Regions from separate parts of the Homo sapiens genome. Here region 1 is linked to region 2. The links come from fine-mapping of genetic effects on gene expression. A gene starts in region 2. The other region holds a variant in brackets. All regions are shown on one strand. Distances are between the middles of the regions.

Region 1 (11,983 bases), 39 kb after region 2:
GAGATGGGGTTTCTCCATGCTGGCCAGGCTGGTCTTGAACTCCTGACCTCAGGTGATCCACTTCCCTTGGCCTCCCAAAGTGCTGGGATTATAGGTATGAGCCACTGAGCCTGGCTTGGAGCACAGAGTATTATTAATAAAATAAGTAGGTAAACAATTAGCGGGGTATGGTGGTGTGCACCCATGGTCCCAGGTACTCTGGAGGCTGAAGTAAGAGGATCACTTGAGCCCAGGAGGTCAAGGCTGCAGTGAATCATGATTGAGCTGCCGCACTCCAGCCTGGGCAACAGAGTAAGAGCTTGTCTCAAAATAAAAATAATAAATAATAGTAAATTTAAAAAATAAAATAAGTAGGACTGGCATTGTGGGAGGTGTGAGGATGATATACATGATACCTTAGATGTTAGTTTATTTGATAGTTTCCTTCCCATTCAGCTATACTTCCCAGCAGCTTTGGAATAGAGACCTAGAGACAATACATCCTTGTTTTACAGAACGTTCTTTCACAGCGAGCTCCTAGCAGAGTCTGGTACAGAGTGGAGGGTGAAAAACTATTGCTGCTCAAAGGACTATCAGAAACTGTGCATGACTTTGTGCATGGCATCCACTTTTCCTTCCCTAGGGATTTTGAAAGACAATGAATAAATAAAGAATGGCTTTGAACAATCAATGTAAGTAAAGAAACAGGAAATGTCATTTCTTAGCTTAATTTATCAACAAACATCTTAAATAAAAAAGAACATGTATCACAACCCTAGGAAAATCCCTCTAAAATTTTTCCCTGACCATAATATTGCAGATTAGGAAAACAGCTTAAGGCATTTGATCCCTTTTGTTGGAAAACTATTCCCACTAGCAGGACTGGCATCTTGTTATGTTTCCCATCTGGTGTAAACACAAACTTGGCCACACTGTAATATCTAATCCTGTAATTCATTAATTAAATAAAAACAAATTAAACACAGCTAATATTTATATCATAAGATTATTGAGGATTCAATGAAATAATTCATATCTAGGGAAACATAAAAATTACCTAAATAAGTGGTACGCTGGGGTCCTCTGAATTTGATCTTGAGTTGAATCGTGTCCCCCCTCCAAAAAAAAAAAGATATGTTGAAATCCTAATCCTTGGTAACTATGAACATCATCTTATTTGGAAAGGTCTTTGCAGATGTAATAAAGTTAACATGAGGTCATTAGGGTGGGCCCTTAATCCAATATGACTAGTATCCTTATAAGAGGGGAAGACAGACATGTGAAGACAGAGGGACACATGGAGAATAATATGTAAAGATGGGGGCAGAGATTGGATTGATGCATCTACAAGCCAAAGATTGCCAAGGATTGCCAGCTGTCACCAGAATCCAGGACAGAGGCATGGAACAGATTCTTCCTCAGAGCCCTAAACATAAACAAACAATGCCAACATCTTGATTTTAGACACCTTGCCTCCAGAGCTGTGAGATAATACATTTTGGTTGTTTTAACCCACCCAATTTTTGGTTCTTTTTTACGGCAGCCCAAGGAAACAGATACATAAGGACTTGAGTGCAAGTGGTTTATTTTGAAGGTGAGTCCAGGAACCATTTCTAGCAGGGTGGGGTTGTGAGGCAGGGAAGCAAAGGACACTAATAGTGTGTGCTGATGAGTAGGATATCTCTGCAGGTGGAACTCAATCTTTGGGAGACAAAGTGGAAGATGTCTTAGAGCAGGGGTCCCCAACCCTGGGACCACAGACCTGTACCAGTCCGCGGCCTGTTAGGAACTGGGCTGTACAGCAGGAGGTGAGCGGCAGGTGAGTGACATTACTGCCTGAGCTCCGCCTCCTGTCAGATCGGTGGAGGCATTAGATTCTCATAGGAGCTTGAACCCAACTGTGAACTGCACATTTGAGGGATCTAGGTGGGACGCTCCTTATGAGAATCTAACTAATGCCTGATGATCTGAAGTGGAACAGTTTCTTCCTGAAACCATCCCCCACCCTGATCTGTGGAAAAATTATCTTCCTCAAAACCCGTCCCTGATGCCAAAAAGGCTGGGGAGCGCTGCCTTAGAGGTGTTCTACCTCTGAGGATTAAGGACATTGGTATGTTTTTGTTATATTTTATTGGTATATTAGCTTTCTATGGCTGCTGTAACAAATCATCACAAATTTGGTGGCTTAAAACACAGAAATTTATTCTCTCACAGTTCTAGAGGCTGCAAGTCTGAACTTAATATCACTGGACTGAGCTCTAGGGGAGAGTTTGTTCTTTATCTCTTCCCCTTTCTGGTGGCTGCTAGAATTCCTTGACTTGTCTACATCACTCCAATCTCTGCCTATTGTAGTCACATTACCTTCTTGTCTGTCTGTGTGAAATCTCCTGTCTCTTAAATGGATTCATGTGATTGCCCACTTGCATAATCATTTCATCTCAAAATCTTTAACTTAATCACAACTTTGCCTGTATAAGTTAATATTCATGTTTCCAGGGACTTAGCCTTCATATATTTGGAAGTCATGTTTCAGCCTACCACAATTGCTATAGTTATCCTTCAATTACCATTTGTTGTTGATTGAGGATGCTTCCAGTGGAAAAATCTGTGGCACTTCAGACCTGCCCTACAGGGGTCCAGAAAAAGTCCTTAAGTGAAAATTTGCAAGTGCTCAGAGGACTTTTTCAGCATGTATGGAACACGAAGTACTGAGGATATGTAGACGAGACACCAACAACATTTGTGTAGGGCCCCCAGGAGACCTCCCGCACAGCCCCTTGCGGCTTTCTTTCTGTGTCCTGAATAAAAAATTAGAGTGCCTTGACTGCTCTGTGACCTAGCCATCTGCAGGTTCATCCCAGCAGGCTTCAACACAAACTGGGGCTTTGAACAGTCCCAGGCACTGGTAAAAGTATCTAAGTTGTTGCCCAAAACACTGAAAGTACTGGCTCAGGCCCTGAGTCACATACCTTAAACCCTCATATAAACTCCGTACCCTGACCCCCTCACTGTGGACATACCTAGGTCCACACCCCTTTTCTCTCACTGTCCATCATGAGGATTGCCACAGCACTCTGTAGGTAAGTTCTCCTAACAATTGTTTTGGGTTGATCACCCCGGCATTTAATGCTTCTTTCGGCCAGGCACAGTGGCTTACGCCTGTAATCCCAGCACTTTGGGAGGCCGAGGCGGGCGGATCACCTGAGGTTGGGAGTTCGAGACCAGCCTGACCAACATGGAGAAACCTTGTCTCTACTAAAAATACAAAATTAGCCGGGCATGTTGGCACATGCCTGTAATCCCAGCTACTCAGGAGGCTGAGGCAGGAGAAGCACTTGAACCCGGGAGGCGGAGGTTGAGGTGAGCTGAGATCGTGCCATTGCGCTCCAGCCTGGGCCACAAGAGTGAACTCTGTCTCAAAAAAAAAAAAAAAAAAAAATGCTTCTTTCTATGGCATCCCAACTGGGGGCCTTTTCTCAAGACAGTTTGGGACACACCGTTGTGGGAACTTCCCTGTCGCTGCTTTTGTTTGTTTTTGAGATGGAGTCTTGCTCTGTTGCCCAGGCTGGAGTGCAGTGGTGAGATCATAACTCACTGAAGCCACTAATTCCTGGCCTACCACTGCTTTTGGGGTGATTCAAGCTGTGGGTTCAGCAGGACAAAAAATCTGCTACATCATTATTCTAATGTTTGCTATTATTTTGGTTTTTGGTTAATACTTTTAATTTAATAATTAATTATAATTATTAGCTATCTTAACCTAATTTTCTGATGCACCACAATATAAATTATTTGTACTACCTGAGTGACCTTGCTTAGAACAAATTATACCATCTATTTAAACTTTGTCCTTTCTCCTGTTCTCATTTAGGTATACATTGCTCTATGACTTCCTCTAAAGCAGCTTGTCTTTATTTTTTAGCACCTATGTGATCTTTTCTATTATTCTCTATTTGGTAATTCATAATTATCATTCTCAACTACACACAAACACACACACACACACACACACAATTTCTCAACAATATTTTAACATTTTCAAAGGTAGAGACCATGATATACGTATTTTCAAATCCTTTCTTTTTTTTTTTTTTTGCGATAGCCTCACTCTGTCGCCCAGGCTGGAGTGCAGTGGCACCCTCATAGCTCACTGTAGCCTTGAACACGTGGCCTCAAATAATCCTCCTGCCTCAGCCTCCCAAAGTGCTGGGATTACAGGCAGGAGCCACAATGCCTGGACAGTAATATCTAAATATTACTTAAATATTACAGTTATGTTTTTTTAGCTCTCTGATAGTGAGTTGTTTTTTTTTCCCCTTGGCTGTAGCACTATCTCAAAGGTCTGAACAGAGATTCTAGACTCCTTCCCTCCCCTGGATTTTATTTTACTTTAGTTTAGTTTTGTTTTTGTTTCCCCTGAATTTTAGGAAGGGAAACAGAAAGAGGCCTAGGCAGAGCCAAGCACTTCGACATAAGGGAGGACTGTATATTGTACAATTCCAGGGGCGTCATTCACAGTTTATTTGTAAAGATAGCAAACTTTTTTTTTTTGATCTATGACAGTGAAGTGTCTTAAGGACATGGAAGCTTTTTCTAATTTCCACAGGTCCCCTTTGGGTGAGCTGTAGGGCAACCTGCCTGCCTCTTTTATGTCTAAGATGATTGACAGTGATAACATCCAATTACGATGTTTATTTTCTAATTTGTGATACTGAAGTGTGGGCTTTTTCTATCGCCAAACACTTACTACAAAGTGACAAACATTCATATAGTCCCTTATTATAACTTATGTAAATTATCTTGTGGTACTGGAAAAAAAGAAGCCTTGTTTATTATTCCATGTCCACTTAGTGACAGTTTTCAAAACTGTTTGTTTATAGAAAATGGATTAATTATAATACGGTAAATGGCCAAGAAAGCCCTTGCTTGTTGACAAAGATCTCTGGAGTATTTGGGATTCTAGCTGTGGGTAAAAGAAAGAAATAGGGAATGTTACAAGAGGTACAAGTGAAAAAAAATAGTTCTTTTGAACATGGTAATGTGAAGTCCCATGGTTAGGAGGTAGAGCTGTCCAGGAGGCAGATGGCTATAAGAATGAAGCTTGGGGAAGAAGTATAGGCTGGACAAAATCTCTTTGTAATAGGTAGATGGATGAAATCACGCTGGAAAAGCAAGTAGAGCAAGAAGAGTGGTAGACAAGTGGGCCAAGAGTAGAACCCTGAGAGTCACCTACATTGAAGAAGCCTAAGGAGGAAGAAATGGAGGTAGGAGGAGAACCTGGGGAACAGGCTATTAGGAAAGCCAAGGGAATCAACATTCTAATGTGTGAAGGGAGATACGCGTAGCATCAAAGGCAGCAGAGAGATCTAGTGAGGTTAAATGAGAAAGAAGTAATGTAATTCCGTACACAATTAGAAAAAACTCACAACACTTTGGAGGTTCTTGGTGACCTTAATTAGATCAGTTTCAGCGGAATGTTATGGGCAAAGCCACGTAAGTTCTTAACAGACTTCCTGAAAGTGCTAACAGGAATCTCCAGGTACAATCCCTGTGATACTAGTTTGGGAAAGCCCAGTGACCCTTATCAGCTCAAGTGTCCAGGAAAGCTCTAAGGGATCTAAGAGGATCTGGAGTCCAAATGGGGCTTGGCA[G/A]TGGATTGAGTGAAGAAGAGATGACACAAAGGTGGACACACAGAATTAAGAAACCAGCAAGATTAAATGGAATTAAAAGGAATCATATAAACTTCCATTTTTGAGTATTTTCGAACAACAGGCTGCTCGAATTCAAGATGGGAGAGATTTAGCTTGGCAACAATTGCTTTAAAATGATCCAGAGATTTTAGTTGATTGTAAACTTAAAATGGGCCAAGAGTATGACACAGTTCTTAAAAAAGCTAGCACATGCTGGGCATGGTGGCTCATGCCTGTAATCCCAGCACTTTGGGAGGTTGAGGTGGGAGGACTGCTTGAGCCCAGGAGTTTGAGACCAGCCTAGGCAGTATAGCAAGACCAAATCTCTGCAAATAATATAAATTAGCCGGGCATGGTGGTGCGTGCCTGTAGTTTCAGCTACCCAGGAAGCTGAGGTGGAGGATCCCTTGAGCCTGGGAGGTTGAGGCTGCAGTGAGCTGAGAGCTGCCACTGCACTCCAGCCTGGGCAACAGAGAAAAAAAATAAAAAAAGGCAATCTTTATATTAAAAAAGAAAATACTAGCACAGGATTGGGCTATGACAATAGAGAAGAGAAAGTGGAGACGCTAAAAGAATACTTTTTTCTGGAAGTAGGGACAAGTAGGAAAAGAGGCACATAAAAGAGCAATTAAAGGGAGATAAGTTTATTAGAACAAATCTTAAAAATGGAAGAGATTTGAATATGTTTATAAGCTGAGGGGAAGGATCTATTAGAGAGGGAAAGAACACAGGAAAGAAGGGATAATTAATGATACAAGAATCTGATGAAGCTGGGAGGAGTTGGTTTTGAACTGGAATGGGGATGCCTCATCCTTGGAGAGACTGGAAGGAAGGCTAAAAGGATGGGAGTGACTGTAGATATGTTGATATGCTTGGGAGGGAATTCAGGCACTTGGGAAGAGCACAGGCTGATGTTTTCCACTTGTTTGATGAAGTAATACTCCAGCGGGACAGGCTCTGCTGTTTCTGACACTGTGTGGAAGGAGACAGAGCAAGGAAGAAGTTGGAAGGGAGGTTGAAAGAAGAGTGCCAGATGGACCTCTTGGTCTTTGTGGTGGGATCAGGAAATTGGTACTTTTTTCCCTCAGTCTCTCTAAGAGCAACACTATTCAAGGGGCTCAGAACCCTTTGAGCCGCACTACTGGGTTTTCCCACCTGCTCAGGACTGCGAGGCCAGACTCTGTGTCAGGGCCATGCTCAAAAATCATAGACTCAAAAAAACCCACAAAAAACTTGAAGTGGAATGCTTAAATTTATTGAGAAAAAAAAGTCTTTGAGAGACAAGCACTTTGATACTCTTATTCTTGCAATCCATAAAACTTCCTGTAAAAATGAACGACTTTAGGCGGGGCGCGGTGGCTCATGCCTGTTATCCCAGCACTTTGGGAGGCCAAGGTGGGCGAATCACGAGGTCAGGAGATCGAGACCATCCTGGCTAACACGGTGAAACCCCGTCTCTACTAAAAATACAAAAAAAATTAGCTGGGCGTGGTGGCGGGCGCCTGTAGTTCCAGTTACTCGGGAGGCTGAGGCAGGAGAATGGCGTGAACCCAGAAGGCAGAGCTTGCAATGAGCCCAGATTGCGCCACTGCACTCCAGCCTGGGCGCCAGAGCAAGACTCCGTCTCAAAAAACAAAAACAAAAAACGACTTTGGTGAAATTACTAAGCAGACAGAATTTACCCAAAGTTGTAAGATACTGAAATGCAGATACAGTTTTTTATTTTTATTTTTATTTTTTAGACAGTCTTGCTCTGTCACCCAGGCTGGAGTGCAGTGGTGTGATCTCGACTCACTGCAACCTCTGCCTCCTGGGTTCAAGCGATTCTCCTGCCTCAGCCTCCCGAGTAGCTAGGATTACAGGCGCACGCCACCATGTCTGGCTGATTTTTGTATTTTTAGTAGAGACAGGGTTTCACCATGTTGGCCAGGCTGGTCTCGAACTCCTGGAACTCAGGTGATCCACCCGCCTCTGCCTCCCTAAGTGCTGGGATTACAAGCGTGAACCACCGCACCCAGCCATGGATACAGTTCTTTATCAGCTAATGGTTAAAAATTAAAGCAAAAAAAAAATGCAAAATAAAACACTAAGAATCACAGACTTTTAAGTGACCAAGGCTGATGAGAAATCATTCGCCATGCTACAAACACGGCCAGAATGTCCGTCGAGGGGCAGGCATTACACACAAAAAATAAGCTTCTTTCTGCCCTCAGGACTGTATGGAGGAAAAAGACTACGAAAATCAGTATCTATAACAGCATGAGATAAGCAACGTGAGGAGAGGCACAAAATGCAATGAGGTGACCGAAAAAACCAAGTCCTCTCATTCTGAGAGGAGGAGCCCGATTTCCCCAAGGTTTTAAAAGAAATAAATAGGGCGAGAGTCAAAGAATCATACTCAGATAACCTTGCAAAATGCGCCCCTCCCGCCCGGCTTCCCGCCTTTGGCACCGACGCCCTCGGGGCTTCCCTCGTGCCAGTCCGCGCGCGCACGCCGGGGGGCAACCGGTCCAGGGCCGCGAGACAGTCACCGCGAGAGGGCGCGAGCCCGAACCTGTCTACGGAAGTCCCGCCCTCACTTCCGGCGGCGGAGGATTGGGAGGGACTGAAGGCCGTTTCCGGCTCTGGTAGTGTAGGGACTTCGGCACGTGTGTCATTCCCCGGGATTTCTGTAGTAACCCTGCTTCTGGTGAACTTGTCTGGCCGGCATTCATTTAAGGCCTAAGGATGAAGGCGGTAAGTGTCCTCAAAAGCCCGGTCGCCGCGGCCTAGGGCCCCTTCGGGTGATAGAGTCACTGCCTGAGTTAGCTTTTAGGCAGGTTTTCACCCGTGTCTAGGGGGCGGTGGTTTAGACTGGGGGCTTTCCATTCCTTACACCGAGCTCATCCTTGGTTACCCACTGTGTGCGCGCACCACTTCAGAGTATCACGAAGAGACAGGCACGGAGTTTTGCATGCGTGGGATTTCATACTTTGAAGGAATTTTTCAAGACCGTCTTTCGAACTCGTTTTTCACAAATGAGAAGCAGGGTCCTACCCTCAGCGAGTTTATAATGTGAGTCACGGTACCCATGAAGGGTAAAGAGATAGAAAAGCAAGTGATTTGTCCTGGTTCTCCCAGAAAATAAGAGGTAGTCCTGGGGTTCAGGACTAACTTTGGGATTTCTGAATGAGTCACCAGCAAGAGAAGTGGAATCCAAAGATCCGAATTCAGTTTTGCCCTCCTTAGTTTATGGGTCTTTTGGCAGCTTCATCAGTAATGTGAGGATAACAGCAGTCAGTACTCAACTAGGCTGTTAGAGGTGATTTGTTGGAGCACTTTGTAAGTAATAAAATCGTAGATAAATGTAAGTTTTATTAAAGACAGCCAGCATTTTGCTTTGAATGTGTTAAACTACAGGTGTGTTAAACTAGCCTTGAATAGCCACTTACCACTACTAGATCAGTGGTTCTTAACCTGTTTGGGGATCGTAGAACCCTTTGAATTGCTGTGAATTGGGATTGAATAACTGATGCTGTAGCGCTCTTCTGTAGGATTAAAGCCATCGTTTGGTTTTAGCTTTTATATGCAAGTCTGTGGCTGTGGGACATTGAAATTGTGGAATTGGTCTAATGAAATTTGTAATCAGTTCTCTTTAACCTGATTTAAAAAATAAGTTTCTGGGTATGCAGTATTCTTTCTGTTATTTTCTAGAGAAGAAATAAAAAACAGATCCCAAGCTTTCGCAAGTTAATAAAAACTAGTAAAGTCAAACTTGAAAACAAGCTAAAAAATAAGCAGTTTAAACAACAAAGCACTCTCAAGAAGTACCGAAAAGAACAGAGGAAACTAAGGCAAGCTGTGAAAGATGCTGTGTCTAAGAAACCCATTCCATTGGAGAACCCAAAGGAAAAGCGACCAGGTAATTGTGAAAACATCATGTGCTCTGGTTTCCATTGATTTATTCTGAAGTGTTCTTCATGGAAATAACTTTGCTTTCTAGTAATCGCTTTTCTTGTTCTCAGATCTTCCTAGAGTGGGTAAGGATAGTAGTCCTATAGGACTGCTATAAAGCATATATGCTTTATCACAGTCAGTATGAGAAAACATTTCAATACAGTATTCATTCAAGCTTCTGCTTTTAGTTTGTCTGGAAGGCAGATCTGAAGATGCACTACTTGGGAAAACAAACTGAAAGTACTCCGTTACATAAATATTGGGCAGTGTGCCAGTGCTGCCACTTTGCCATTCACCAGCAGTTAGGTAAGGTAAGAACATTGCTTGTCTCTGGTTCATTCTTCACAGTATTGCCAAGGTACACTTCTAAACTTCTGACTTTCTTTTCATGTGGAAACTTGGGGTGAAATTGAGTTGTAATTGTCATGGTTATTTTGTAAAACTATCTAAAAATTATTAAGTACTCAAAACTTGTAAGGAATATGACTATTTTGAGTCAGGCTAGTTCTACAACTTTGCTGGTACTTTTAGGGTATTCTTATTTGACTATATCAGATTATTAGACAACTATTCAGTCTTCTCAGGTCCATTTTTTAAAAATTATTATTATTATTTTAAATAGACAGGGTCTTGTTCTGTCACCCAGGCTGGAGTGCAGTGTGCAAAAATAGCCCACTACAGCCTTGACCTCCTGGGCTCAGGCAGTCCTCCTGCTTCAGCCTCCAAAAGTGCTGGAATTGCAAGGGTGAGCCACAGCACCCAGCTAAAGTTTTTTTTTTTTCTAATTTTGTGGGTACATAGTAGGTGTATATATTTATGGGATACATGAGGTACTTTGATACAGGCATACAATGCATAATAATCACATCAGAGTAAATGTGGTATCCATCACCTCAAGCATTTATCTTTGTGTTACGAACAATCCAGTTATACTTTTTTAGTTATTTTAAAACATAAAATAAATTATTGTTGACTATAGTCATCCTATCTATCAAATACTAGATCTTTTTCTAAGTGTATTTTTGTACCCATTAACCATCCCTACTCCTATCTCCTCCAACTGCCTTTCCCAGCCAGTGGTAACCATCATTCTACTCTCTTCATGAGTTCAGTTGTTTTAATTTTTAGCTACCACAAATAAGTGAGAACATGTGAAATTTGTCTTTCTGTGCCTAGCTTGTTTAACTTAGCATAATGGCCTTTAGTTTCATCCATGTTGTTGCACACAGGATCTCATTCTTTTTTGTGGCTGAATAATACTACATTGTGTACATGTACCATATTTTCTTTTATTATTATTATTATTATTTTTTTTGAGATGGAGTCTCTCTCTGTTGCCAGGCTGGAGTGCAGTGGCACGATCCCGGCTCACTGCAACCCCCGACTCCCCAGTTCAAGTGATTCTCCTGCCTTAGCCTCCCGAGTAGCTAGGATTACAGGCGCACACCACCACATCTGGCTGATTTTTGTGTTTTTAGTAGAGCCGGGGTTTCACCATGTTGGCTGGGATGGTCTTGATCTCCTGATCTCGTGATCTGCCCGCCTTGGCCTCCCAAAGTGCTGGGATTACAGGCGTGAGCCACCGCGCCTGGCCCCGTATTTTCTTTATCCATTCATCTGTTTATGAACACTTAGGTTGTTTCCAAATCTTGGCTCTTGTGGATAGTGCTGAATGAACATGGGAGTGCAGATATCTGTTCGGTATACTGATTTCTTTTTTTTGGATTCATGCCTGGCAGTGGGTGGGATTGATGGATTATATAGTAGTTCCATTTTTAGTTTTAGTTTTTTGAGGAACTTCCAAACTTTTCTCCATAGTGGTTGTGCTAATTTACATTCCCACCAAGAGTGTATGAGAGTTCCCTTTTCTCTACATCCTTGCCAGCATTGTTACTGCCTGTCTTTTGGATAAAAGCCTTTTTAACTAGGATGAGATGATATCTCATTGTAATTTTGATTTACATTTCCCTGATGATCAATGATGTTGAGCACCTTTTCATATACCTGTTTGCCATTTGTATGTCTTCTTTTGAGAAATGTCTATTCATATCTTTTGCCCATTTTTTAATGGGATTATTAAATTTAGAAGGCTCATTTAAAGTAGATAGGAGTGCCATTCTGTGCAGTGTGTACATTTATATAGCAAGATTTACTAGGGTCTTTTTTTGTTTTTTTTTTTGAGACGGAGTTTCACACTTGTTGCCCAGGCTGGAGTTCAGTGGCGATTTCTGCTCTGCTCATTGCAATCTCTGCTCTGCTCATTGCAATCTCTGCCTACGGGATTCAAGTGATTCTCCTGCCTCAGCTTCCCAAGTAGCTAGGATTACAGGCATGTGCCACCACGCCTCACTAATTTTTTGTATTTTTCGTAGAGATGG
Region 2 (11,983 bases):
ATGTACCATAAATATAAGGTGATGTTAACCAAAGGGGAACTGGGGGAGGGGTGTGGAAACTCTTGGTATTACCTTTGCAACTTTTCTACAAATCTAAAACTATTTAAAAATAAAAGATTTTAAAAATTAAAAATTAATCTCTATGGCCATTTTGGATAATGTAGAGATTTCTATCAAACAAGTAACTCCAAGTTAGTATTATAATAATAGTCTGCTTTGCTTACAAGTGTGTAGTAAAAAATGTTAATTTGGCCAGATGCGTAGCTCATGCCTATAATCCTAGCACTTTAAAAGGCCAAAGCGGGCAGATCACTTGAGCCCAGGAGTTTGAGACCAATCTGAGAAACATGGCAAAACCCTGTCTCTATAAAAAATACAAAACAAAATTAGCAGGTCGTAGTGGTGCATGCCTGTAGTCTCAGCTACTTGGGAGGCTGAGCTGAAAGGATCAATTGAGCCCAGGAGTCTGAGGCTGCAGTGAGCCGTGCCACCGCATTCCAAGCCTGGATGACAGAATGAGATCCTGTCTCAAAAAAAAAAAAAAAAAAAAGTTAATTTAATTTAGCACTTCAAAGTAATATGTTTGAGTGCTTAAATTATCTTACTTCCACAAAAATCAGAGTTTCTGAATACGTTCTACCTAATTTGTATTCAGGTTATCACATCTCTAATCTGCCAGCTGAATGAAAGCCACAAATTCCTAAGTTGAAGTCCTGAACCAATGCTGGATTTCCGGTGCTTTAGTGTAGGTCCCTAGAGTGTTGTTTTTTGGGGGGTTTTTAAAAGAAAATACGGGATCTGAGGTAGGGGAAGGAGTGACACACAGGGAAAAGATATAAAAGGCTCTTGAGCTAGCTCCCCAATTTAACATAATGGTAGCTTCACAACATTCTAAAATCCTAATAGACTTTTGTGTTTATTCTAGAGCAATTAATTACGTATTATTTTCAGTTTTCCTAAAATTTTAAACATTAATTATAGTAGCACAGTTGATCCTGAACAAAACAGGTTTGAATTCAATAGATTCTTCCTTCATTCTCCTTGTAAATAATTATATCAGAGTATTAAAAAGCTGCCCACTTTGGGGAGCTTTTAAAATCTTTTAAAACATCAGAAGTTTCATATTTTGCCTTTTCTTTAGTGATTTGAGAAAGGAATTTTTTTTGAGAAACTCACTTTGAAACTGTCGTTTTTTATTTTAGTTGACTGGTGGAGGCACTATGGAACAAGTAAGGGAGACTTATAGGACAGAGATGTTTATGATGGCTCAGTCAGATGGATGAATTATGATTTTGTCAACTAGCACAAATTCTAGGTGGAAAAAAGGACGTGGCTGACTTTGTTGTTTCTGAGAACCTTAAATTAAGAAAAAACTATACCTATAGGAATTTAGATTTTTCCATGTCATATTTAATAAAAACAAAAAAACTTCATTGGTTTTCATATTAGGGAGAATGGAGACTATCTAGATGTAAAAAGAAATCACTAAAAGAGCCTTTAGTTTTTCCTACTCAACCCAACCATTGTAAAAAGAGCTCTGTGAAAATAGCTTTTGCCACAATATTTAGGAAGTTTCAGAAGTCAACAACTACAGAGAAAGCCACATGGATCTGTATGTTTCAAAATCTATAAAGTCAATTTTCTTTTCAGATAAAGGGAAAAAAATCTCCAATTATTCCTTCCCTACCTTAGCAATGCCCTTTATTCACCAAATTCATATAAAGACTTGGGAAAAAAAATCAGCACTACCAGGAAACACAGATAAGTGTCTATGTTTTTAAAAACAGTAACTATGCCAATGCAATCCTAACAAGCTTCAAAACTATTAAATGGCCTAAAAACAAACAAACAGAAAACTATGAAAGAGTCTATCTATGTAAAAAATAAACCATTCTACTTAGAAAACAAGACATGAATTTACTTGAAGAACCCACAAAAACGGTTTAGAACTTTTTTTAAGAGACATGGTCTCACTCTGTCACCCAGGCTAGAGTGCAGTGACTCAATCATGGCTCACTGCAGCCTTGAACTCTTGGACTCAGGCAATCCTCCTGTTTCAGCCTCCAGAGTAGCTGGGACTACAGGCATACGCTACCATGCCCAGCTTAGAACTATTTTTTAAAAAGAGTAACAAATGGATCTTTGGGGAATTAAGGCAAGCTTGGAAACACAAAAGACTTCAAAAAAGCTTTCACTCCTCCTTACTGCTGAGTGGTACCCATCTAGCATTTCAACTTTTTTTTTTTTTTGAGACGGAATCTGTCACCCAGGCTGGAGTGCAGTGCCACGATCTCAGCTCACTGCAACCTCCCCCCAGGGTTCTAGCAATTCTCCTACCTCAGCCTCCTTAGTAGCTGGGATTACAGGCACCCACCACCACGCCCAGCTAATTTTTTTGTATTTGTAGTAGAGACAGGGTTTCGCCACATTGGCCAGGCTGGTCTCGAACTCTTGACCTCAGGTGATCCACCCGCCTCAGCCTCCCAAAGTGTTGGGATTACAGGCGTGAGCCACTGCGCCCAGCTGCATTTCAATTTTTATAGACAGGAAAGGGTCAAGGATCTGAGGGAATGTTACTTTTAGGGCTCTGACAGCCAAGTCACCATAAACACAGAAAGGTGTCCATGTGAAGCTGAAGCAAGCCCCCAGTAGGGACTGAAATAGAACTCACCTCATGTGGAAGGGAAGGAAAGTGGGAGATGACCACTAAGGCCCTCCAAATGAAAGCAGTCATATTCTAAATGAATTCCTGTTTTTCCTATATATCTACCAAAATGATGTGTCTTAACATAATACTATGTAGTAATAGATACATTGTGTAAAATGCTCCCCCCTCTTTACTTAAGTAAACATAAAACTGTTTTTTTTTTAAGGTTTCTCGTATAGATTTTTGCCTAATTAAGGGAAAGAGAAGAACGAAGTGGGAAGGGAAGAAGAAGGAAAGCATGGAGGATAAATAGGTGGGAGAGAAAAGAGCCATAAAGTGAACAAAGGTTGTAGACTGAACATAAACATGGATTGGGAAATCAGGAATCCTGGTTTCAAATCCCAGCATGCCACTAGCTAACTAAATTACCTTCTTTAGACAATGAGATTCCTCATCTAAAAAAATGAAGTGGGAGTAAGGGTTGCACCCAAGAACAAGATTCCATCCCAAACAAGCCACTTCCAAAGAGAGCCCTCACCTGGAGCTTCAGAGTTGAGAATAGCAACTATGCATTTAGGGGTAGGGTTGGATCTCTTGGGTTGTGTTGTGAGACAGGGGTAATTTCTGATTATTTTCACTGAGGATGGAGATTCTGCTCAAAATTACACTACCTAGCTAGAGCACAGTAAAAGGGAATCCATGAAAGCTACCTATTCAACCCAATCTGAATGGTGTTCTTCATACCAGTGGCTAGGTATTATAGATTCAGAGATGAATGTCACAGTTCCTGCCTTTAAGGTGTTCAGAATTCATTTAAGAAAAACTGTGCCTCTCTGACTCTGCCCTTTCTTTCCCAAGAATGTCATATAAAGGAAGCACTGACTCCTAGAGTCTTGACATTCAGACCTCTATCAGGAAAAATGAGGCTTAGAGAAATTAACTTTAGGGCACCTGTTTTCTGACTTCAAATCCAGTGCTCTGACACATATGAATAATGTGGCCATATGAATGTCATCTAGCTATATTAAGTTCTATTAGTCTATAAGTAAAAAAAATTTACAAATTAAATCAAAATTCCTGCCTACTTAAAACACATGGGAAATGAAAGAAAAAATAAAATTCCTGCCTACTGTTAATAATATGAAAGCCTCCTATAAATAACATTGTTGGCTGGGGCAGTGGTTCACACCTGTAATCCCAGCACTTTGAGAGGCTGAGGCGGGTGGATCACCTGAGGTCAGGAGTTCAAGACCAGCCTGGCCAACATGGTGAAACCTGGTCTCTACCAAAAATACAAAAATTAGCCAGGCGTGGTGGCGGGTGCCTGTAATCCCAGCTACTTGGGAGGCTGAGGCAGGAGAATCACTTGAACCCAGGGGGGCAGAGGTTGCAGTGAGCCAAGATGGCACCACTTCACTCCAGCCTGGGCAAAAGAGGGAAACTCCATCTCAAAAAAAAAAAAAAATGTTCAGAAATTGCAATGTATATATATGCATCTGTCTTCAAACTTAATCCCCATTAGCCTGCACCCCACCTGCAGGTAAGGGACAGTTTTCTAAATCATCTCTATTCACAATGCATGGCAGAGAGCAAGAACTCAAGAGTATACTAGTTGAATTTGTTATCTCCAAAGCCCCTCCCAGATCTAAAATTGCCTGACATCTGACCTCAAAACATGACCAAGATAGATATGACCAACAAACACCCAAAGGCCACACAGTGTCACAAATTTATAAACCTAACTCACCTTGAGATCTTTTAGAATACTGCCAGTACAAGCTTTAAATATATTTTTGCAACTATATTACAAATACAGATGTCATTACTACATATATTGTCCTGAGTAACAAAAAATTAGGATTTTCCACTTTTGATTTAAGAAACTTTATATTTGTAAATTTATACAAGCAAAAAAATAAGGATAAACTAGAAAGAGGAATAAGAAATATCAATTATAATCAGAAAATTGTGCCTTTATGTCTACAATATGTACGCTAATTGTATAACCTGCTAAAACTTGAGCTAAGAATTTGCTTCTTTCACTTCTGGTTATAGTCAAGATCCCCGAAAAGGTAGAAAAACAAAGTAGGGAGAACTCTGTAAAGGAAAGTTTTACAAGTTGGGAATATTTTCCTATTTGCCTGGGGACTTAAGAAAAAAGAAGAAGAAGAAGAAGAAAAAGGCGTGTCAAAATCTAACTCAAGGAAAACTGCCTTTTTTTTTTTTTTTTTGAGAGAAGTCTAGCTCTTATTCCCCAGGTTTCAGTGCAATGGCTCGATCTCAGCTCACAGCAACCTCCGCCTTCTGGGTTCAAACGATTCTCTTGCCTCTGCCTCCCAAGTAGCTGGGATTAAGTCGCCTGCCAACATGCCCGGCTAATTTTTGTATATTTTAGTAGAGACGGGGTTTCACCATGTTGGCCAGGCTGGTCTCGAACTCTGACCTCAGGTGATCCACCCACCTCGGCCTCCCAAAGTGCTGGGATTACAGGACTGCTCTTACAGTAAGGTGTATTAAGTATTTTCTGACTACTCTTATTTATCCCTATTAAATCAACAAACCTCCATCCTGAAATCTGCGAAGTCCAGCACCATAATTTAATTTCTTTCTTTTCTTTTTTTTTTTTTTTGAAAGACGGAGTTTCGCTCTTGTCCCCCAGGCTGGAGTGCAATGGCACGATCTAGGTTCACTGCAACCTCTACCTCCCAGGTTCAAGTGATTCTCCTGCCTCAGCATCCCGAGTAGCTGGGATTACAAGCACCTGCCACCACGCCTGGCTAATTTTTGTATTTTTAGTAGAAACCGGGTTTCACCACATTGGCCAGGCTGGTCTCGAACCCCTGACCTCAAATAGTCCGCCCGCCTCAGCCTCCCAAAGTGCTGGAATTACAGGCGTGAGCCACCGCGCCCGGCCCATAATTTAATTTCAAGAATATCCTGTCAAATCACAAATACAATACCATTTTTTAAAAAAACTAAAGTTATTGGGGAAAAAAAGGAGAGGCTTATCTGGGAGATTAGAAAAAAGGCTTTCCTTAGTAAAAGCCCTACTTTGGCTTAAAAAGTTGGGATAAAATTCTAAACACCAAACTGCATTTTAATAAAGACCACTGAAACAAACGATTAAACACTATGAAGCACAACCACTTCTAATTTCAAGAATTCCCAAACCACTTGAATGGATTTAGACGCTATGCAAGCACAGCAAATAAACAGCTCTACAAAATGACTTCCTTCTCTCTTTCACAACCACACCCGTACACACATACCGCCTCCCCTCACCACCCCCCCAACAACCTAAATGTTTGTAGTAAAATTTTTAAAAATTGGAGACGGAGATGGTTATCTGCTTTTCCAGAAAAGGCAACTGCATATGTGGCACTAGACAGCTGGCCCAACCTGACTGCTCAGAAGCCAGGTATGAATGGCAGGTACAGCCTCCCGCGGACAAGGCAACAGAAAGACTCGCTGTCCACAGAGCTCACAACTTCTCCTATAGAAACACAAAGCCGACCCAGTTCCTCTTCCTCCAGTGACAAATCAAAGCTAAGTCCTGACGCGTGTGGGGCTGGCACGGAAGCGGCCGACCAAGCTCTCCGCTCCGGCTCCGGCTCCGGCTCCGACTCCCACCAAGACCCCGGCTCCGGCCCCGGCCCCGGACCCGCCCCGAGTCCCATGCAGCCTGCGCTGTACCTGGTGAAGAAGTCCGCGAAGCCGCCACTCCGTCGAGCCCGGGCCGAAGCCCCCGCAGGACCCTGCTCCGCGGCGGGCAAGGGCACCGGCGGCCCCGCCGGGGGCAGGTGATCGCGGGCGCTCTGACCGCGGCTCACCTGGAACGTGTTGCGAGAGTTGAAGTGAATGTCAGAAAAGCCCAGGCGCGGCTCCGCACCCCCATTAGTCCTCTCGGCCGAGGTGGCAGGGGGCGCGCCCTCCTCGGGACCCCCGGCGCCGACTCCCCGCTGCTCTGAGTCCTCGCTACTGCTGCAGCTGCTGGCGGGGCTGTCCCCCGAGTCGCTGCCCGCGCCCTCGGGCTCCTGGGCGTCCGCGGCCACCAGGCAGCAGCTCCGCAGCGGGTCCTCAAGCGGAGAGGCCCAATCGGACGGGCTTCCCGCGCCGTCCGCGTCCTCGTCGCCAGGCCCCTCCAGGCGAAGGCGGCCGTAGGGGCGGCGGCGGCGCGACTCCCGGCCGCCGGCGCGCGCCAGCCCGCGAGCCTCTTCCAGATCGCGACAGTCCCGGCCCGGCAGAAAACCCGAGTCGCCGTTGGTCATGCCTTCGTGCCGCGGCGCGCGGCCATCAGCCACCTCCGCGCCGCGGTGTTTGGAGCCCGAGCCCAGCAGGCAGGCGTCCGATCGTGGGGCTGCCGAGGGCGGCGGGGCGCCGGCCTGGCCAGCGGGGAGCGGACAGTAGCAGAGCCCCGGCTCCAGCTGCTCCCCGGCCGCCGCGAGGTAACGCTGAAGGAGCTGCCGAGGCGGCGTCTCCTCCTCCTCGTCAGCCTCCTCCTCCTCGTCAGCCTCCTCCGGCGGCTCCACAGCGCCGACGCCTCCGCCAAAGCCGCCCGTGGCCCGGATTACCTTCCTGTCCTGGCCCACGGGGTCCGGCGCAGGCACCGGGAGCAACTTGGGGTTTCTTCCCGAGCAGGCTCCGGCATCCTCCGGACCCACCATCTGGGGGTGGGTGGCGGCCGCCCCAGGAGGCAAAGAAGGACTACAGGCGCAGGCTTGGCCAGAGAACAGCTCTGGGTGCTGGGGCCGCGGCGACAGCCGCCGCAACGTTCCCAGACCCACCCCTCCCACCCGCTGGGTCGGACAGTTGCTTGAGGGCGGGCACGCGCCAGGACTCGCGCACGCGCAAAAGTCGGACCGGTCAAGCCCCGACCTGGAGATTCCCCGAACCATAGAGACGGTAGCTAGAGAGACGCAGGCTGCCAATCTAGGATCCGCCATCTGGATGGTGGAAGCTGGTTGGCCCGCTCTAAGCGTGACAGTTCTTACCGAAGCGCGGGTATTGCTCGCTTAGCAAAAATTCACTTGATGTATTTCATTTATGGTAGTAAAATACTCCCATATTTGGGAGGTGTTAGCGTGGGTAAGTCCTTCCAGCTCTAATTGGTCACCAGTCGACTTTACGATTTTTACATCCTTCTCCGGCATCATTGCCACAGTTCAGGGCTTCATCACTTCATCCAGGAGGGTCAACACCCTCCCTTCTTCACTTCATCTAACACAAAAGAAAGATATCCTAAGTTATCTTGCTCACCTAGCACCATGTTTCATCACAGTCCTCTGTTTAAAAGATTATCACCGGCCGGGCGCGGTGGCTCACGCCTGTAATCCCAGCACTTTGGGAGGCCGAGGCGGGTGGATCACAAGGTCAGGAGATGGAGACCATCCTGGCTAACACGGTGAAACCCTGTCTCTACTAAAAATACAAAAAAATTAGCTGGGCATGGTGGCGGGCGCTTGTAGTCCCAGCTACTCGGGAGGCTGAGGCAGGAGAATGGCGTGAACCCGGGAGGCGGAGCTTGCAGTGAACCGAGATCGCGCCACTGCACTCCAGCCTGGGCGACAGAGCGAGACTCCGTCTCAAACAAGAAAAAAAGATTATCACCTAAGGAGGGAGAGGAAGTGGTCAGGCAGAGAGGAGCTATTGAAATAATTCCAGCACTCTGCGATAGTGGATTAAAATGGGATGATTGACCATTGAGTGGAAATGAAGTATATTTAAAGTAAAAGACGAAAGACTTGATAACTGATCAGAAGTGACAGAAGAGAGAGTAACCAATGATTACTACAAAGATATGAGACTGAAACTGATATGGTTTGAAGAAATAGAAAAGTGGATAGGAAAAAAACGATTAATAGGGGAAATACATCTGGTAAAGTAAACGACTGAAAATATCCAGCATATAGAGTTCTAAAACTTGAGTTGGCTGGGCGCAGTGGCTCACGCCTATAATCCCAACACGTTGGGAGGCCGAGGCAGGTGGATCACCTGAGGTCAGGAGTTCGAGACCAGCCTGGCCAACATGGTGAAACCCAGTCCCTACTAAAAATACGAAAAATTAGCTGGGCATGGTGGTGGGCACCTGTAATCCCAGCTACTTGGGAGGCTGAGGCAGGAGAATCGCTTGAACCCGAGAGGCTGAAGTTGCAATGAGCCCAGATCGTACCACTGCACTCCAGCCTGGGCAACAAGAGGGAAACTGTTTCAAATAAATAAATAATAAAACTTGGGTTAGGGTTTAGGTTCAGAGACACAGATTAGGCGTCATCTGTATAATGCAAGTAGGTGGATGAATCATGAGTAACATTACCTAGGAAGAAAGAATAATGATAAGGGTCGGGCACAGACCCAAATGTTTCATTATTTCAGGACAAAAAAGTTGTATTGCAAGAAATTGAAGAGGCATCAGTTGTGGATAAAACGAAGCAGAAAATATAGACCACTCATTCTATAAAAGTATATAGAATATAGACCACTCATTCATTCTAAAAGTATGTTAGTGAATGCAAGAACAGAAAATAGAAGTCGTAGAGGAGACATTATTGTCAAGCATTTAAAATTTATTTCATATAAAAATACCTATACATACAGATATAAGAGGGAATATAACCTTTATATAATAAAATGTCAATAAAATGGGCATGCATGTACCTAACACTCAATTTAAAAAAACATCAAGAGGCCAGGCGTGGTGGCTCACATCTGTAATCCCAGCACTTTGGGAGCCAGAGGCAGGCAGATCACTTGAGGTCAGGAGTTCAAGACCAGCCTGGCCAATATAGTGAAATCCCATCTCTACTAAAAATAAAAGCATAAAATAAAATAAAATTAGCCGGGCGTGGTGGTGGGCGCCTGTAATCCCAGCTACTCAGGAGGCTGAGGCAGGAGAATCGCTTGAACCCAGGAGGCGAAGTTTGCAGTGAGCCAGGATCGCACCACTGCACTCCAGCCTGGGCGACAGAGGGAGACTCTGTCTCAACAAAATAAAAACATCAAGTGTCTTCGAAAATAAGCGTTATTGAAGGCCCTAGGAAAGGACTAAGTGGCAAAGGCATAGTCAGCAATGCATTTATTATCAAGGTATTTCAGAAGGAAAAAATGACTTTCAGGACACGAGTGGAAAAAATATAAAAAGAGAGAAAATATTTGCAAATTGTATATCTGGTAAGAGTGCAGTATCCAGAATAAATAAAGAACTTGTATAAATCAACAACTGAAAAACAACCCAACTAAAAAAATGGGCAAGGGACTTGAATATACATTTCTCCTAAGAAACATATGTTAATGGAATATTAATAAGCATATGAAGTGATGCTCAACATCATTAGTCATTAAGGAAATGCAAATCAAAACTACAATGAGATAGCACTTCACACTCACCAGGATGTCTATAATCAAAAAAATAGAAAACAAATGTTGAAAAGAATGTGGAAAAACTAGAACCTTCATACATTTCTGGTAGAAATGTAAAATGGTGCAGCTTCCATGAAAAACAGTTTGGTAGTTCCTCAATAAGTTAAACATGGAATTACTTATAAGCCAGCAATTTTACTCCTAGGTGTATACCCAAAAGAATTGAAAACAGGTGTTCAAACAAAAATGTTTTACGTGGGTTGGGCACAGTGGCTCATGCCTGTAATCCCAGCACTTTGGAAGGCCGAGGCAGGTGGATCACCTGAGATCAGGAGTTCAACACCATCGTGGCCAACATGGTGAAACCCGATCTCTACTAAAAAAATACAAAGGCCGGGCGTAGTGTCTCACGCCTGTAATCCCAGCACTTTGGGAGGCCGAGGAGGGTGGATCACGAGGTCAGGAGATCGAGACCATCCTGGCTAACACGGTGAAACCCCATCTCTACTAAAAATACAAAAAATTAGCCGGGTGTCGTGGCGGGCACCTGTAGTCCCAGCTACTCAGGAGGCTGAGGCAGGAGAATGGCGTGAACTGGGGAGGCAGAGCTTGCAGTGAGCCGAGATCGCACTACTGCACTCCAGCCTGGGTGACAGAGCAAGACTCCGTCTCGAGGAAAAAAAAAAAATAGCCTGGCTCAGTGGTGCCCGTGCCTTTAATCCCAGCTACTTGGGAGGCTGAGGCAGGGAGAATCGCTTGAACCTGGGAGGTGGAGCTTGCAGTGAGCTGAGATCACACCACTGCACGCCAGCCTGGGCGACAGAGCAAGACTGCGTCTCAAAAAAAAAAAAAATGTTTTACATGAATGTTCACAGCAGCATTACCAATAATAACCAAAAGGTGGAAACAACCCAAATGTCCATCATCAGGGGAACTGATAAACAAAATATGGTATATCCATGCAACCAAATATTACTCAGACGTGAAAAAGAAAAGAAATACTGATTCATGCTACAAGGTGGATGAATGTGAAAAGCACTGTGGTGGTGTGTACCTGGATAGTCCCAGCTACTCGGGAGGCTGAGGTGGGAGGATCTCTTGATCCGAGAAGTTCAAGATCATAGTGAACTATGATTATGCCTGTGAATAGCTGCTGCATTCCAATCTGGGCAACATGGCAAGACCCCATCTCTTAAAAAAAAATAGATAACATATAATTCCATTCCTATGAAATATCCAGAATAGATAAATCCATAGAGACAGAAAGCAGATTGGTGATTATCAATGACTGAGGGAAAAGACAAATAGAGAGTGACTATCTAATGGATATAAAGGTTTTTGGGAGTATAAAATGAATTGAATGAAAATGAGGTGAACAGGCACGTATTTTGAAACTAGATAGAGGTGATAGTTGTTCAACTCTGTGAATGTACTAAATGCCATTGAATTGTACACTTTAAAATCGTTAATTTTATATTAGGCAAATTTCACCTCAAGTGTAAAAAAGCAATATAGAAGATGTCTGGACAATTTTTATTTTTATGTACACATATTTTGATACTAGCTGGACAAGGTGGCACGTTCCTGTAATCCCAGCTACTCAGGAGGCTGAGAGGCACAAGAACCACTTGAACCTGGGAGGTGGAGGCTGCAGTGAGCTGAGATCATGAATAAGTTAGGAAATGTTTGACAGCAGAAAGAAAATTGCAAGATAAATTCTTTAGGCAAACGACAAAGGTTGAAAAGATAAAAGATTGAGATTAGACTCCTGCAGCTACCCTCATTTTTACCATCGTATTACAATCCTTATGTCCAGACATCTCGTATATTGTTTTTTTACACGAGGTGAAATTTGCATAATATAAAATTAACCATTTTAAAGTGTACAATTCAATGGCATTTAGTACATTCTGTTTTGTAAAGCAGTGGAATGTACAATTTTTATAAGACTATGCGAATTGGTTTGCTACTGAAATCTTC

The links.
Region 1: its variant is fine-mapped to the expression of TBC1D12 in blood mononuclear cells (TOPMed, PIP 0.95).

The regions. Positions count from the first base shown.
Region 1 is chr10:94,359,252-94,371,234 of GRCh38, reverse strand. It overlaps NOC3L (NOC3 like DNA replication regulator), which reads left to right and starts at 8,296. Exons shown (of 21, transcript NM_022451.11): 1 at 8,296-8,405; 2 at 9,363-9,570. The coding sequence starts at 8,397. RefSeq lists a silencer at 8,093-8,222 and enhancers at 8,363-8,622, 11,958-11,983. The variant G/A (reference allele first, on the strand shown) is at 5,631.
Region 2 is chr10:94,397,942-94,409,924 of GRCh38, reverse strand. It overlaps TBC1D12 (TBC1 domain family member 12), which reads right to left and starts at 7,384. Exons shown (of 13, transcript NM_015188.2): 1 at 6,341-7,384. The coding sequence starts at 7,311. RefSeq lists enhancers at 5,877-6,176, 7,477-7,636 and silencers at 6,257-6,586, 6,657-7,146.